Linked DNA regions of Homo sapiens: region 1 is linked to region 2. Evidence: fine-mapped expression QTL. A gene starts in region 2. The other region holds a variant in brackets. All regions are shown on one strand. Distances are between the middles of the regions.

Region 1 (4,380 bases), 170 kb before region 2:
AACTCCTGGGCTCAAGCGATCCTCCCACCTCAGCCTCCTGAGTGGCAGGGACTACAGGCACATGCCACCATGCCCAGCAAATTTTTGTATTTTTTGTAGAGATGGGTTTTTGCCATGTTTCCCAGGCTAGTCTTGAACTCCTGGACTTAAGCAATTCTCCCACCTCAGTCTTCTGAGTAACTGGGACCACGGACTCGCACCACCACACCTGATTAATTTTTAAATTGTTTGTAGAAACAGGGTCTTGCTATGTTGTCCAGGCTGGTCTTAAACTCCTGGCCTTAAGGGATCCTCCCTCCTTGGCCTCCCAAAGTTCTAGGATTACAGGCGAAAGGTACACACGGCCTTTTCAACTTTTTAGAAGAACACGCTAAGTGGTATGCACTTTTGTTTGGTATTGGAAAGACCTTGAATTTCACAGAGGACATTTCAGGATTTTTCCAGAGTGTTTAGTGCTTGACCACCCAGTGCTCCTCACAACAGACCGAGTGACATACTTTCTGACTTTCCTCTGAAGTGCCTCCAAATAAGATGCATTTGCTTTCATCTTTTTCTCCCTTTCCATTAAGAAAAGACTAAAACTAGCATGGCACTGTCAGCAGTTGAGCTAGTGAACTCTGGGATTCTCATGAGGAGGCCCAGTGAAGAAATGGCCTTTCTTCCTAATTAAAGACTTGGGGAAGCACCCTCTAGAAGAGCAGTCCCCGACCTTTTTGTCACCGGGGACCAGTTTTGTGGAAGACAGCTTTTCCATGGACTAGGGAAGGGTTGGGGGATGGTTTCCAGATGAAACTCTTCCACCTCAGATCATCAGGCATTAGTTAGATTCTCGTAAGGAACATGCAACCTAGATCCCTCGCATGCACAGTTCGCCATAGGGTTGTGATCCTATGAGAATCTCATGCCCCCGCTGATCTGACAGGAGGCAGAGCTCAGGCAGTAATGCTGCCTCTCCTGCCACTCACCTCCTGCTGTGTGGCCCTGTTCCCAACGACCACAGACCAGTACCAATCCACAGCCTGGGGTTTGGGGACCCCTGTTCTAGAACACCTACTGTTGACTTCTGTGCCCTAGTTTCCCAGGACCAAAAGCCCTTCTCTGTACATGTGTGGTGGGAGCACCATGTGGCCAAAGAGTTAGCTGAGGCCAGAGATGTTTCACTGTGTCAGTGCAGTGAAAGAAAGAAGGGGGGGAACTAGTTTTATTTTGTTTTTAGATTAAATATGCGTTGACATAACTTCCAGGTGTCTGAAAATTATGTGAAAACATTTTTATATGGAAGGTCTGTACTCATATTATTGTTGTAATGGGTTAAAAATTGCATCAAGGGATATTGATTTCCATTTTTTAATCAGTCTCCCTCTCTAGATATATGGATAGAGAATGTGTGTATGCATGTGTATGTATTTACAGATATATATATATATATATATATATATATATATATATATATCCACCCCAGCTCTTGCCCTCCTAGGTTTTTAGGTTTTCTTTCTCTTCTGTTCCAGTGCTGTTCCTTTTCCCTAAGCAAGGCCGTTCATGCACCACCCCCCACATTCTCTAAGGCGTAGAAAACTACTAATAAAGTGAAGACTGGGCGTGGTGGCTCACACCTGTAATCTCAGCACTTTGGGAGGCCAAGGCAGGTGGATCACCTGAGGTCAGGAGTTCAAGACCAGCCTGAGCAACATGGAGAAACCCCATCTCTACTAAAAACACAAAACTAGCCAGGTGTGGTGGTGCATGCCTGTAACCTCAGCTACTCAGGAGGCTGAGGCAGGAGAATGTCTTGAACCCAGGGGGCAGAGGTTGCAGTGAGCCAAGATCATGCCATTGCACTCCAGCCTGGGCAACAAGAGCGACTCCATCTCAAAAAAAAAAAAAAAAAGAAAGTGGAGATTTCCAGAAGAAGGACAAATCCTACTCGGATATAAAAATAGAATGTTTTGCAGGATATAGCTTTCTAATTTAAATCTGGTACAAAGCACAACTTCCTCAGGCCTCAGTTTTCAGTTTATAACAAGACAAGGATTGCCTTTTCTCTAAGGTGGCATCCAGTTTTGTGATCTTAGGAGACATTGACTGGTACGACGTAGGCAAACCCCTCTCTGCTTCAAACCTGTCTGGGAAGCCAAGCCCAGGGTTTTCTTTCATGAACCACTCGGCTTCTCTGTCTCTCTTTGAGTTTAACCTGGTTTCCTTCTATCTCACCACCCACGGGTGGG[G/A]CCAGACAGTGGTGTGTGTCGCCACTACTTCCTGATGCCCACTCTGAGCCAGGCTGCATTTGGGGCTCAAAAGGGTTCATTTGCCCAAGGCATACACAATCCACAGGAGCGGAGCCTCGATTTGAACCCATGTTGTCAAACTCCAAAGCCACGATCTTAACCACTATCCTATGCTGTCTCCCAGGAGGAGGGTGGTTTTCAAACTTTTTTTCAGCACTGAAACATTTTAAGTGATGTCTTCCATAAAACCTCAAAAATGGAGCTGCCCTGGGGATCGCAGAGCAGGAACCTGGTTGTGAGCCACTTTGCCTCATCCACAAACCGAGATTGGCTCCCGGGTGCCTTCACAGAACTCTGAGCTGCATGAAGTGGAAAAAGAAACCACTCTTCTCCACTGACTACACATGACTGTGACAGACAAAACCCACCTTGCCTGTCCAGAGCCTGCTGGTGATGGTCAGTGGTCAGCATCCACAGAGGCCGAAGCCTAAGAGCATGACTCACAGCTCATGCAGCACTTCCCACGGCCAAAGGGCCAGCAGTGCCCTCCTATTTTCTTTTCTCTCTCTTTTTTTTTTTTTTTTTTTGAGATTGAGTCTAGCTCTGTCGCCAGTCTGGAGTTCAGCAGCATGATCTTGGCTCACTGCAACCTCTGGTTCCCAGGTTCAAGCGAGTCTCCTGCCTCAGTCTCCCGAGTAGCTGGGATTACAGGCACATGCTGCCACGCCCAGCTAATTTTTGTATTTTTTAGTAGAGACAGGGTTTCACCTTGTTGGCCAGGCTGGTCTCCATCTCCTGACCTCGTGGTCCCCCACCTCGGCCTCCCAAAGTGCTGGGATTACAGGCGTGAGCCACCGCGCCCGGCCAATGAAGTCCTATTTTCACACTTCCTTTGAGGACTACAGTAATGTTATCAGGAGACAAGCAGTTTCTGCACCTCCTCTGCCTTGACCCAAGTACATTCCAATAGACGTCATGAGGTGACAAACTGTGGGTGCCCATGTTGAGCACTGCTACCGCCAGCATTGCCAAGTTGATTTGTATGGATTTGTGTCATTTCCCTGAAGTTCAACATAATGCTCAAACAGGAGGGCTCTGCTGTGGGGCAGGCCTGGGTTCACATTCAGGCTCTGCCAATTACTGAGTGAGCTTGGACCAACGATTTAATTAAGATTCCATTTTCTCATCTAGAAAATGAGATCAAGTAAGTACGACCCTGCACAGTATCCATCACTATAAAGGTTAGACTAGCTATTATTATTACTATTATAAGCTAATGAAACATATTCTTCTAGTTACAAGAAAATGAAGCTGGGCACAGTGGCCCTCCTGTTGTTGCAGCACTGTAGGAGGCTAAGGCAGGAGGATCACTTGAGGCCAGGAGTTTGAGACCAGCCTGGGCAACCTATTGAGACCTGTCTCTACAAAACAAACCAACAAACAAAACAAAACAAAAAAACACTAACTGGTTGTGGTGGCACTCGCCTGTAGTCCCAGCTACTTGGGAGGCCTAAACAGAAGGATTGCTTGAGTGCAGGAGCTCAAGGCTGCAATGTGCTATGATTGCGTCACTGCACTCCTGCCCAGGCAACAGAACAAGACCCTGCCAAGAGAAAGAAAGAGAGAAAGAGAGAGAGAGAGAGAAAGAGAGAGAGAGAGAACAAAAGAATCAGTGTTTTCAGAAACTTTCTGACTATACATGCCTATCTAATTATTAAGAGATGGACTCATGAAAATTTTTTCAAGTTTGGATACCTTCCTCTTAAATTGTGTTTGAATTTCAAGTGAGTTTTCATTCTCAAATATATAACATTATGTAACATAGGATGTGCTACTTCTATTTTTCTTTCAGTCAGGTGTGCTATTACAAAGACTGATACTGTATGAGCAAAATTTGGGTGGATTGTCTTATCTACGGATAGCTAGATCCCAGGGTTTTAAGAGATCTTAGAAACTCTTTCTCCCCATACTCCTCAGCCAAATATAAACTGGAGTGATAAAAATCAAACATTTTATGTGGCGGGTTTAAAAATCACTCGTGTATCCTTAATATGTACCCATGCTTGCCAGTGGTACCAACACTGGCTTTTAGGTCTTTAATGCCCCAGAAATAAGAATCTAAAATGCCAGTTTTCTACTGAAGAATACTGACTTC
Region 2 (4,380 bases):
CATAAGTCATAATTTTCCCTAAGTTACGTGGTAAATGATGGAGTTGGATTGTAATCTTGATCCTTACATCTTATTACCTCTTATAGAAATATTGCCTCTCTAGGTTATGTTATTTTTCCATAATTCCTAGAATGTGTTTTCCTTCCTTTTCCTTCTCCTTTCATGGCCCACATTTTACTCTCCTTTATCAAACTGAAAATTTCACAATCAACATTTAAAAAATTTCTAGTGCAAAAATTTTAACCCAAAAGTCCTCAGCTGTTAGGTACGCCGTTCATGCCATGCATGCACATTTGCATGTGCAAGGAGTTGTTTTGTGCTGTAAGTTGTTTTTCCTTTCTGGACATATTCTATAAGCCCACAAGCGGTGAGCTACTTGAACCCTGAATTTCTATTCACTTCTTGTTAATTTACTCAATTGTATCTAGCACTGGATACTGCTACAGCCACTGGGCTATTTAGTAAATTACCATCTGACTGAAATACAGTCCTTGTATTTTATTCTATTTTTCTTTTCTTGATTATTAGCTGACTTGTTTGGTGACAGGCTGTCAAGAACACGCAAATTTCATGGCCATATAAAAATGATCTCGTCAACGTCTTCCCTCGAATTGAAGCGGAGGATTTAGTTGTAGATTTGGTTTGGCACCTTCCACTTTAAGGAAGATGTAAAAACTAAGGCGCAGGTACTCCAGCTGCAGGGAGTGTTTTTTGTCCCCGCTCCCCTGTCCCCCATAAAGAAACAGGACCTCAGGTGGTGGGCGGGCGGGGAAGGAGAAGGGATGTTTCTAAGTCTACAGGGGAGAGTGTAGAAAGAAAGAAGGAAAAGGTAAGAGGACTCCACAGTTTCTAGGTTTTGTTCTTCTTTTTTTCCCTCTGGACAGCGGTGGCAGCTGATCAGACACAATAGCTGGCAGTCCCCGGCCGCAGTGAGGATAAAAATGACCCTCAACAGCACCAGCAGGAGCACCGAGAAGGGGAGGGGAGTGTGTATGGGAGGGGGCGAGGATGAGGGTGACAAGGTGACAAACGCTGCCTCTGACTGCGAGCAACTCCCCCTCCAGCCCCGCGAGGCTCGGAGCCGGGGAGCCACCTCCCCGGAGCGGGGCGGGGTGGGAAGGAGAGGCCGAGGGGGCGGTGGCCTTCACCCGGGGGCGGGGAAGAGGGCGGAGGGAAGCCTGATTTACCAGCCCCTGATTGGTTCGCGTTCTCTCGTCGCGTCTCCCGATTGGGTAATTTGCAGCGGGAGATGTTGTGAGGCACGGCGGGGCGGAGCGAGCTGCCGGGGTCTGTGACAAGGCCCGGGAATTGGGTGGGGAGGGTGGCGGTTGTGCCGCGGCTCCGGAGCCGCTGTGACCTGGAGTGTGGCGGACAGAGAAGCGCAGCCGCCTCTCCACAGTTCCGCTAGCCGCGCCAAATTCGCTCAGCCGCTCTGCAGAATTTATAAAAGGGAAAGAACTGAATGAGCAACGCTTGGCTAACTTCCCCCTTCCCACCACAGGAAGAGATTTTTGCTGTGAGGCGTGAGGGGACACTCCCTTATCTGGAAGTCCCACGTCTCGTCGCAGCTTCATTGCCTTCCCGCTGCAAAAAAGGGGTGGGGGCACAATTTGCCAAGCCCTGTCCCCCAATCTAGGACCTTTGATCCCTGGAGTCTGCAGATGTCGCTGTTATAGGCTTGTCCCCCTCTCCACCCCAGACGTCTACCACCAGGTCTCCTTTCCCGGGAGCAAGCCCATCCCTGGACGCTGCCGTTCAGCGCTTGGGAGACTGCAGGGGCGGGGAGCGTTGTGTGCCTGGTTTTGGGGTGCTGGGGGGCGAGGGCTTGTAGGTCCCGCGACCCACGGGGAGGGGGCAGGCGAGCACCCCGCTCCGGCCTCCGGCTAATCCCCCTTCTCCAGCGTCGGTTCCCCGGTCCCGTGTTATTCAAGACAGAAAATATTCAGCCCCAGAGCCTCCCCTGGGGAGGGGAGGGGAAGGAGGTGGAGTGGGAGGAGGTGGATCCAGGGAGGAAGAAGCGAGAAATCCGCCCCCGGGAAACAGCTCCGCGCGGCCACGGAGCGAGGCGCTTCTGTCACTTGGCGTTCGCGGGCGCCGGAGCTGGGCCCCGGCCCGGCCCGGCGAGGCGAGGGGAGAGTCCGGCGGCCGCCGCCCCGCCCCACGCCCTCCTGCGGCGGCCGAGAGCCCGGGGCCGGCCGGGGCAGGTCGCGGCGGTGCCTGGGAGCGGCCGGCCGGGGGCGGCGGCCTCGGAGCGCGGCGGCGGCGGCGGCGGCGGCGGCGGGCAGCGCGGGATCGTCCGGCTGCGGGGTCCGGCTCACGCCGGGCGGGCGGGCGGGGCGCGCTGTCCCGGAGCCGGCCAGCCCCGTGCGGATCCACTCGTCCCGCTTCCTCTGGTGCGTGTCTGGTTTCTTTTCCGTCTCAGCCGAGAGGGCGCTGCGCTCGCGGGCCGTGGAGTGCCCGGCTTGCCGCGGGCTCTCTCCCTTCCCGCCACAGGCCACCCGGCCGGGCGCTGGCTCGGGGCCGGAGGGAGCCCGCGGCGGGCGCCCGGCGGGGGCGGAGGGGCCGCGCCCGCGTGTGCGGAGCAAGGGCGGGCGGCGGGGCGGAGGGAAGGGCACAAAGGCCGGCGGTGGGCGCTGGGGTCCGGCCGGCCAGCCTTGGAGGAGGGGCGCCTGGGGCCGCTCATGAATATTAACCGAGCCTGCGGCCTAGCGCGTCCCGGCCGGGCCCGGCGCCCGGCCAGCGTCTCCGCTTCAGCTCGCCGCCGCGCTTCGGCCGCCGGGCCCGAGCGGGCGGGAAGGGTAAGGCCCCCGGTTTTGTCTCGCCCCGGGGCTCCTAGCACCTTTGAGAAAGTCCATATTGGGGCCGCTCTCCTCGGGAGCTCGAGGTCCCCGACCCGCCTCAGGAAGGGGCGGGGGAATCGTGGGGAGGTGGGTGGTGGTTTGCTTTTTCTCGTTTTTTCCCCCTAGGTGGCCACAGGGGAAGGGAAGCCGTGTCGAGTGGTAGTTGGGGGAAAAGCCGCGACTTCAGAGTTGCTCGGGTGTAGCTCCAGAATCATGCCCTGGAGCGGGAGCGGCGCCGGCGTCCCACCCGCGGCCGCGCACGCCTCCCCGGCCGTCCCCACCCAGCCCCGCCGCGGGCCAAGGAAAACAGCCGCCTCCTCGGGGACGCCGGCCGGGGCGGAGGGGCGGAGGGGCGGCGCCCGAGTCACCCGGAGACGCCGCCGAGCCCACGCCGGCCCCAGCCAGGCTGGCTTTGTGCTTGCGTTTTTGGGGGGCGGAGGGGAGCGAAGAGGGGGCTTGGAAAGTGTGATCCCATTTCAGCCTCGTGGGGGAGAAAACTTCACCGAAGTGTCCCTGTCTGGGTGATGCAGAAAACAACATGCACAGCCCTCTGCTCTACCCAGGAAAGACATGAATTAAAATGCACTTGAATGGGGAACATTTTTTCTTGAAGGCTGCATAACAGCCAGGTGTGTTTGACGCAACCGCTGGGCAGTTTCGAGATTTCTCTTTTTTAAACACCCCCTCGAATTTATAGGCTTTTTGTTTGTTTACGTTAAAATTTTTTTTTGTTTGTTTTGCTCGGGAGGAAACGCGAACTTGGTGTGGACATGTGGGCAAGACAGTGATAGGCGCCTGGAGAAAGTTCATGACCTTTAACTTCTCGTTTTCCTAGGATCTCTCTAGGAGCTGACACTCGAACCTTCACGACCCATTCGGATTTTTCCAGGACTCAGGAGTGGCACTGGGAAGAAGGGGACCGCTTTCTGCAATTGGCCTCGACACTGGCTGCCAAGAAGACCTGTCGCCTTTGTTTTTAAGTCTCCAGAAATGGAAGAAGAAGGCGAAGTCAGTTGAAGTCACGAGAAATCAGCGAGGCATTTGAAGGCGCTTCCTGAAAACCTTTATTCCCTGGCACGTTGTCTGTTTCAACAGCCCTGCCCCTCCTCGGAGCCTGCTTGTGGAATTCTTCCCCTTCGGGTGTGTGGTGGCATTCCCCGCCACGTCCAATGTGGACTCCAAAGGATTTGTCCCTTCTTTGTCATTTGAAATGAAATGATGGCCACGCGTCGGACTGGTCTGTCTGAGGGAGATGGTGACAAGCTCAAGGCCTGCGAGGTAAGCGCGGAGCCAGCGTTCCTGGCCGGCAGGGCGGTGGCCTGTGTCTTGAGCGTCCTGCAAGTTGGGGGTTACCGGCCACGGGGCCTCACTAGGGGCTTCCCGGGGCTTTGAGCCTGTTGGCGGGAGCGCCCCAGCTTAACCAGTAGCGAGGAGAAGCCTGGCCCACGTCTGTTTCCAGGGACTCCCGTGTTTCTTTTGCAAGAACATGTCCCGCAGTTTGGAATGTCCTCATCTTGGTCACCCCTTCTCAGAGCCAGGA

The links. PIP is the estimated chance that this variant, and not a neighbour inherited with it, causes the effect. A credible set is the group of variants that fine-mapping cannot tell apart.
Region 1: its variant is the best candidate, but not a certain one, in a credible set for the expression of ARHGAP21 in blood mononuclear cells (TOPMed, PIP 0.89).

The regions. Positions count from the first base shown.
Region 1 is chr10:24,892,762-24,897,141 of GRCh38, reverse strand. The region is part of intron 3 of PRTFDC1 (phosphoribosyl transferase domain containing 1); the gene reads left to right. Among named protein-coding and RNA genes, the nearest start is that of PRTFDC1, 58 kb to the left of the region's middle. The variant G/A (reference allele first, on the strand shown) is at 2,226.
Region 2 is chr10:24,721,575-24,725,954 of GRCh38, reverse strand. ARHGAP21 (Rho GTPase activating protein 21) reads left to right here and starts at 2,068. Exons shown (of 26, transcript NM_020824.4): 1 at 2,068-2,393; 2 at 3,676-4,118. The coding sequence starts at 4,056. RefSeq lists silencers at 949-1,328, 2,079-2,268, 2,299-2,368, 2,459-2,538, 2,559-2,918 and 1 more and an enhancer at 1,625-2,535.